Regions from separate parts of the Homo sapiens genome. Here region 2 is reported to be linked to region 1. Evidence: microRNA targets listed by miRTarBase, many of them from high-throughput screens and not tested one by one. Region 1 holds a microRNA gene; the other region holds the end of a gene's coding sequence. Distances are between the middles of the regions.
Evidence for each region. The annotated mature microRNA hsa-miR-3912-3p reads UAACGCAUAAUAUGGACAUGU and lies in region 1 at 3,149-3,169, opposite strand. An mRNA with a match to its seed (bases 2 to 7 or 8) in the 3' UTR can be bound and repressed. Matches are read on the target gene's strand: a 7mer-m8 pairs with bases 2 to 8, a 7mer-A1 pairs with bases 2 to 7 and ends in A, and an 8mer does both.

Region 1 (4,488 bases):
GGGATTCCACCTTATTCTGAAAACAAGGAAATAAAGGGAAAGACTCAATCATTTTCCTGCTTTTCTTATACAAATTATTTCTATTTATTTATTTTTTGAGACAGTGTCTTTCTCTGTTGCCCAAGCTGGAGTGCAGTGGCTTGATCACGGTTTACCACAGCCTCGACCTCCCTGTCTCAAGTGATCCTCCCACCTCAGCTTCCTGAGTAGCAGGGACCATATGTGTGAGCCACCACACTCAACGAATTTTAAAATTTTTTGTAGAGATGGGGTCTCCCTGTTGCCCAGGGTGGTACAAATTATTTTTGGCCAGGCATGGTGGCTCACACCTGTAATCCCAGCACTTGGGGAGGCTGAGGTGGGTGGGTTGCTTGAGCTCAGGAGTTCAAGACCAGCCTGAGCAACATGGTGAAATCGTCTCTACCAAAAATACAAAAAATTAGCTGGGCATAGTGGCCTTTGCCTGCAGTCCCAGCTACTTAGTAGGCTGAGATGGGAGGATCACTTGAACCTGGGAGGCGGAAGTGAGCCGAGATCACCCCACTGCACTCCAGGCTGGGTGACAGAGTGAGACCCCATCTTAGAAAGAAAATTATTATTATTATTTTTTGAGACGGAGTTTTCACTTTTGTTGCCCAGGCTGGAGGGCAATGGTGCAATCTTGGCTCAATGCAACCTCCGCCTCCCAGGTTCAAGCAATTCTCCTGCCTCAGCCTCCCAAGTAGCTGGAATTACAGACATATGCCACCACACTCAGCTATTTTTTTTTTTTAATTTAGTAGAAACAGGGTTTCATCATGTTGGTCAGACTGTTTTCAAACTCCTGACCTCAGGTGATCCACCTGCCTTGGCCTCCCAAAATGCTGGGATTACAGGTGTGATCCACTGCACCTGGCCGAAAACGATTTTTTAGGGTAATCAAATAATTGATCAAGAAACATTCTCCTTTACAGAAGATTACAGACTGAGATTACAGGCATGCCACCACGCCTGGCTAATTTTGTATTTTTAGTAGAGACGGGATTTCTCCATGTTGGTCAGGTTGGTGTTGAACTCCCGACCTCAGGTGATGCGCCCTCCTCGGCTTCCCAAAGTGCTGGGATTACAGGCGTGAGTCACCACACCCGGCCAGGAACATGTTAAATGACAACATGACTCAAGGTAATGTGTAGACCTTGTTTTGATCCTTATTCAAGCAAATCAACTGTAAGAGACAGGGGTATTTGAACTGGGTAATTCATACTATTAGAAATAAATATATCTATTTTGAGATGGAGTCTCACTCTGTCACCCAGGCTGGAGTGCACTGGCTCAATCTCAGCTCACTGCAACCTCCATTTCCTGGGTTCAAGTGATTTTCCTGCCTCAGCTTTCCAAGTAGGGAGAGACAGCTTTAGTAAATATCTTTGTACCTATATAATTATTAATGTCTGAAAGTAGTTTTGTAGAGTATTCTAAGAAATGGATTTGCACAGTAAGTAGAGCAGGCACTTACAAATATATATACAGTACATATAAATGCTTCTTTTCTTTTTTCTTTTTTTTGGTTGGTTGGTTGGTTTTTTTAGAGACAGGCTCTCACTCTGTCACCCAGGCTAGAGAGTAGTGGTGTGAACATGACTCACAGCAGCCTTGACTTTCCAGGCTTAAGATCTTCCCACCTACCTCAGCCTCCTGAGTAGGTGGAACTACAGGCATGTGCTACCACACCCGGCTAATTTTTTCTGTTTGTTTGTAGAAACAGGGTCTCACTATGTTGCCCAGGCTGGTCTTCAACTCCAACCCCTCCTGCTTCAGCCTCCCAAAGTGCTGGGATTACAGGCATGAGCCATTGCACCTGGCATTCACTGTTTACGTAAGCAGGGTCGTATTATATATATATTGTTCTCCAACTTTGCTTTTTTACTTCATGTGGCATAGCTATCTTTCCAGGATATAATATATAGGGGACCACTGTATTCTTTTTAGAAGTTGCACAGTATTCCACAGGATAAACTGATATACCATTTTTTAAATACAAGTTTTATTTTAATCTTCATTTTTTAACACATTTTATCATGGAAATTTTCAAACAAGAACAAAAATAGAAGGAATCCTATGATGAACAACCATATACCCATCACCCAGTTTTAACAATTATCATCATGTAGTCAATCTTATTTCATATATACCTTCCCACTCTCCTTTCTCCTCCCCTTTTGCTGGATTGTTTTTTTTTAAAGTCTCAGATAAGGCCGGGCGCCATGGCTCACGCATGTAAGTCCAGCACTTTGAGAGGCTGAGGCGGGTGGATCACTTCAGGTCAGGAGTTCGAGTCCAGCCTGGCCAACATGGTGAAACCCCATCTCTACTAAAAATACAAAAATTAGCTAGGCGTGGTGGGGGGCGCCTGTAATCCCAGCTACTTGGGAGGCTGAGGCAGGACAATCACTTGAACCCAGGAGGCAAAGGTCACAGTGAGCCAAGATCATAACACTGCACTCCAGCCTGTATGACAGAGCGGGACTTCGGTTTCAAAAAAAAAAAAAATTAAAATAAAAAATAAAACAGTGGCCGGGTGTGGTGACTCACGCCTGTAATCCCAGCACTTTGGGAGGCCAACATGGCGAAACCCTGTTTCTACTAAATATACAACAATTAGCTGGACGCGGTGGCAGGCACCTGTAATCCCAGCTACTTGGGAGGCTGAGGCACGAGAATTGCTGGAACTCAAGAGGCAGAACTCGTGAGTCAGAGATCTTGCCACTGCACTGCAGCCTGGGCAAGAGAGCGAGACCCCGTTTAAAAAAAAAAAAAATGCTGGCTGGGTGCGGTGGCTCACGCCTGAAATCCCAGCACTTTGGAAGGCAGAGACAGGCGGATCACCCGAGGTCAGGAGTTTGAGCCCAGCCTGGAGAACACAGCGAAACCCCATCCCTCCTAAAATACAAAAATTAGTCGGGCGTGGTGGCATGCACCTGTAGTCCTCGCTACTCGGGAGCCCGGGAGGCGGAGGTTGCATCCAGCGGAGATCACGCCACTGCACTCCAGCCTGGACAACACAGCGAGACTCTGTCTCCACACACACACAAAAAAAGGCATAACAAATTTAAGTGACTCAAAGCTTTATGTGACACAGGAGCTCTCAGAAAGGAACAGTTAAATTATAACATGTCCATATTATGCGTTAGTATGTGTCCACAACTAACCCATAATATGGACATGTTATAATTTAACTGTTCATTCCTCTCTTGATAGACACTGAAATCGTCTCTATAATTTTCCTGTAAGAAATAATGCCTTGGGGTGGGGGTGTCTTCCTTTCTGAGGCTATCATTTGTATTCCTCACTTCTTAAATTTGTTTGATATGTTGAGGCTTAAAAAAAAAAGATTACGGGTCTTCAGAACGCCCCAATGCCCGCGGGGTGCTGGGGTGCCTCGGAGTTTGTCAAGGTGTAGCTTAAAACGTTAATTCCCATGCTCGCTCCCAAATATTCGAATTAAGGCTTCTGTAGTTCTTACAAGTCACCCGCTTTCTTTCAGGAGGAATGTTAAAGATTAAGAGCGGCAAGAAGTCAGAGTCGGCCCACCCTCCGAGCTCTCTTAGGGCGATGTCCTTGCTAATTTGGAGACTGATTCAGTCCCCTTTTGGCCCCCAAGTTACGTAAAGATAAGGACTTTGGAGATGTTTTCTCAGGAAGGACAGAGCTGAAAAACAAAGTTCCGTAAGTCTGGCCGGTAACTACATCTTTCCTTCCTAACAAAGAATAAGCCGCAATTCACTCTCTCTGGCACCTGAACTTTGGGGTAACGATTAACTGCGATCCGAAGCCTTCAGGCAAGTAAAAAATTCCTGAAGTGATTACGCCTGTTTGGAGGCTTGCAGGGCACTAGGGGATGGGGAAAGGTGAATCGAGGTGCTCTCTGGCTCATTCGCAGCCGGCTAACCCGCCATATCTTACACAGCTAAGGGCTGCCGACGCCATTTTGCAGGGTGGGCTGCGCAGACTCTTGGCGGGAGGCCGGCGCGCTTGAGCGGGAGAGGACGTGGAAGGGTTGGAGGTGGGGAGTGCGCGTTACGACTGGAAAGCACGCGTGCGCACAGGCGACAGCAGCGGAGGGGTGGGGCCAGTGTACGAGTGCGCGTGCTCGGTGGGAGCCCGCGGAGTACCTGGAAGGAGGTGGGGGCGAGGTAGAAAGGAGTGGGGTTGAAAAGCGCTTGCGCAGGACGGCTACGGTACGGGGGTGGGAGGGCTTCGGAGCACGCGCGCGGAGGCGGGACTTGGGAAGCGCTCGCGAGATCTTCAGGGTCTATATATAAGCGCGGGGAGCCTGCGTCCTTTCCCTGGTGTGATTCCGTCCTGCGCGGTTGTTCTCTGGAGCAGCGTTCTTTTATCTCCGTCCGCCTTCTCTCCTACCTAAGTGCGTGCCGCCACCCGATGGAAGATTCGATGGACATGGACATGAGCCCCCTGAGGCCCCAGAACTATCTTTTCGGTAACTGCTGG
Region 2 (4,000 bases), 34 Mb from region 1:
TTTTGAAGGAAATCATAAATGCAAATTTCTCAAGTATCCTCAATCTTTTAGGTTTACTTAAAAATTATGAAAATTAGATTTGAATATGAAACGTTCCAAATCACTAAGTTAAAAATGGATGAATGGGTACAATCAGTATAGTCATTCTGATTTGATAGTTATCACTGTGAACCTTAACCACTTGCAGGCTTTTTTTTGGATACAGTAAATCAGTACCAATGAGAGCTTTTTAAATGACCTGAAAAACACTACAGATATTCCAATCAAAAAATCTAAAATGCTCCAAAATCCGAAATTTTTTGAGTGCAGACATGACATTCAAAGGAAATGCTCATTGAAGCAGTTTGGATTTTACATTTTTGTATGAGAGCTGCTCAGCTGGTAAACATAATGGAAATATTCAAAAATTGAAAAAAATCTAAAACTCAAAACACTTCTGGGCCCAAGAATTTCAGATAAGGAATACTCAACCTGTATCATCTCTAACAGCCTTTCAAACCACTTTCAACTAATGACTACTGAATTTATACTTTTAAAAGAATGTAAATGCCAAAGATCTTCACATTAAGATGAAAAATAGGAGGTTCACTTTTATTTTGCTAATCCGTCAAAATACATTCAAGCATGGCACAAAAATTATATTCAACACTAGGTTCTGTACCACCTGCTCCCATGAACTCTTAAATCTGAATAATGTTCAGATAATTTTCATAGGTGGAAGTGGTCAAAACATACAACCAATTGTCCCTCCTCCCCAAGTCCCACATGCCAAAATGTTTGCATATAAACTGACAAGAGGAACCCAGAAGTGACTAAATACCACTATGCTTTTTTCTTCACTACAAATAGCAATTTTAAGGGTAGACACATGACAATGAAGTGTTAATATACCATGAACAGAACAGGTTGCCTTCCTAATACACAGAAAATCCTTTTACATAATTCATTTGCAAACTTTAGAAGCCACTATATTCCCATGTTGGGAATAATATGACAACCTTATTAAACTGAAAACCCTGAGAAAGGTGTACTATTCCAATTGACCCAGATCTTCCCACCAAAACTGAGTAAGTCAAGCAGAGTAGTATTTAACAATTACAACGAAAAATTTCAGAGAATCATTTTCTGTATCCTAGAGGCCACTCTACAGCCACCAAAAAGCTGGACCAAATTACCAAATGAAGTAGCCCACATGTAATTTGTGTATCACTAGAATTAAAAAATAAGACAGAAATGTATGGAAAGTGTACAACTATTTGAGAGCAAAGGATTTGACTATGTATTACCTCAATGTGTAAAAACATCCACCCCGTTTGTCATAGAGGATATAACACTATTTGTACCAACCATCCGCTACCCTTTGTCAAAATGACTACTGAGCAGCTATAACCTAGCCTAATAATCTTAACCTTTCTTCTTACTTCTTTAAAAGCCCTGCCAATCAGGAAAAAAAAAAAAAAAACTGGCAAGAACTAGACCTTAGGAATTGAACAGTGACAAGAAGTTAAAAAATGGTTCAATATTAAAATATTATTTTATTTTAAAGCCCAATCTTTCAGAAAGCTTCTTAGTATAGCTTTGAGCCTTCAACGTCAACATGTAAGTCAAATATTTAAGTTAAATATTAACATCAAGTTAAGCATACTAGATTAAAAGGTACTCTGAACCCACCCACCAGGTTATACATACTCTCACTCAATCATGTAAAGAATTGAATTCTTTATTTGTGATATCCATAAACGTTGCTATTCTCTATTTCTATCCAGAAAGGCAATTTTCACCTATTATCACTTTTGTTCTTCTCTTATAAACAACAACTTGAATGCTATTGCAGGAAAGGGCTACAAATATACATTTGTTAACCAAGCAGAATACACAGATATTTTGCTTTACAACTTGCACCTAAAATACCAGTATACGTAGCTGGTTCATTAGTTGTCATAGCAATTTAGGGCTATTGCCCAAGCTATGCATAGCAGTTTACATTTTCAAACCTCATATAGAAAGGGCTATTGTGATATGAACTGGCAACTACATTCCTGTGAAGCCCATCTCAGTTACAAGCAAATGTGTTAACTTCCAATTCTGCAAAGAATTTTGATGGCAAAACTTCCAAATCTGATGCAATTGTCTTAAGCAAGTTTTTAAACAAATTGTTTCGCAGCTACTCTGCCATTCTGCCAGTAGATGGTGCTACAAAGATCGGGAAAGGGATTTCCATGAGGCCAACAGTTCGGATATAGGAAAAAAAAAAAAAAAACGTTTAAACCTGCTCTGAAAGTACAAAAACGCATTTGAGGGTAAAATATAACCCTTATTTTTAACCATTCATTACAGACAAACCAGTAAGAGGGATGAAACTAGGCCATCTGAAAAATTTTAAACAGTTTATATGAATGACATGCTTAACACAAACTATATAGAACTACACAGTACACAGTTTGAAGTAAATTGTCATAGAAATGACCAACCATGTCAAGATGATAAACAATTCGCTTAGTACAAGAGATGGATGCACAGAAACTTAAGAGTTTAAAAAGCCACATCCACCACTTCAAAAGTTTTGCCTGTAAGGGATATAATTCAACACGCAACTAGCAGGGCAACAGGAGAGGGGAAAAAAACCACAGGACCTCTTAAGTTTCTCTAAGTACACATCAAGAATAAAGAATTAACACGTAAAGTCTTAAACAAATATCCCTTAAAAAACGGTACGGAATGGATCCTAGAAAAAAAATGTTAGACATGTACGGTCAAACACAATGATTTATTAAAAATAAAACGTAAAAATGATTTTTGTACATATGCTTCCAAATTTCAGGCATGGGATCCAAGTAGATTTCATAGAAAACGCTGTAGCCAGGTTATCAAGTCCTTACAACAAAGTAAACTACCCCCCACCCCAACCCCCACCCAGGTTTTGCTACAGAATCAGCAAGTTCACTCCCTCCCTCCCCCCAAAAAACACAAATTAAAACAAGACATTTTGCTAGTATAAAAACGACCAAGGTCCAAGTAATAATAAAAAAATAGAGTCCATCAATGACTGTAACACAAAAATGTGTATGTGGGGCCGAGTCCATCTTCAGAGGGAGAGACAAGAGAGGTGGCAGGCAAATAGAGGAACACCCCCAAGGGTAAGCAGCCTTAGAAGTGGCTCCCCCAAGGGCAAAACAGGGAAGGCGGTGTGTGTGAGGGGGTGGGGCTTAGGAGTTGACCCCACTTGGGCTGTTGGAAAGAGCTACCCCTATAGCCACTCCCAGGCATTTTAAATTTTCTTTTAGAAGGAGCTGCCTCCATAGCCACCCCCACCGCCATAGCCGCCTCTGTAAGGTCCACTATTACTGCGACCGCCCCAGCTACTGCCTCCACCGCCGCCGCCGCCGCCGCTCTTCATGGGCCCATAGGAGGACTGATGCTGGCTGTAGCTGCCGAAGCCGCCGAAGCCGTTACCGTAGTCGCTCCCACCGTAGGACGAACCGCCGCCGCCGCCTCCGTAGGCATTGTAGCCGCCGCCTCCGCCGCCGCCGTAACCACCGTAGCTGTTGTAACCGCCGCCGCCGCCCTTGGAAAGGCCGTTCTGGTCTCGACCACCGCCGCGCCCCCGGCCGCCTCGGCCGCCCCGGGAGGATCGGGAGCCGCCTCCACCCCCACCGGAGTAGATATCCTCCTTGGGGACTGCTTTCTTCACCTCCACGCGATGGCCCTGAATCGGATGGAACTTGACCACCGCGGCCTTGTCTGCCGCGTCGTGATTCTGGAAATACACGAAGCCGAATCCACGCTTCTTGCCGGACTGCTTGTCGGCAATAATCTCGGCCTTTTCCACGGTGCCAAACTGCGAGAAGTGCTCGATCAGGTCGCCCTCAGCCACGTCTCCTTTAAGGCCTCCGACAAAGAGCTTCTTAACCTTGGCGTGGGCACCGGGCCGCGCCGAATCCTCCCGGGACACCGCCCGCTTCAGCTCCACAGTGTTGCCGTCCACGGCATGGGGCGAGGC

Region 2: miRTarBase lists HNRNPA0 as a target of hsa-miR-3912-3p. Seed matches in the 3' UTR shown: 7mer-m8 at 2,288-2,294.

What each region holds. Positions count from the first base shown.
Region 1 is chr5:171,383,530-171,388,017 of GRCh38, forward strand. MIR3912 (microRNA 3912) reads right to left here and starts at 3,231; the gene lies at 3,127-3,231. NPM1 (nucleophosmin 1) reads left to right here and starts at 4,320. Exons shown (of 11, transcript NM_002520.7): 1 at 4,320-4,477. The coding sequence starts at 4,420.
Region 2 is chr5:137,749,869-137,753,868 of GRCh38, forward strand. HNRNPA0 (heterogeneous nuclear ribonucleoprotein A0) reads right to left here. Exons shown (of 1, transcript NM_006805.4): 1 at 1-4,000. The coding sequence ends at 3,281. Among named protein-coding and RNA genes, the nearest start is that of HNRNPA0, 2.5 kb to the right of the region's middle. RefSeq lists enhancers at 3,154-3,845, 3,255-3,414, 3,925-4,000.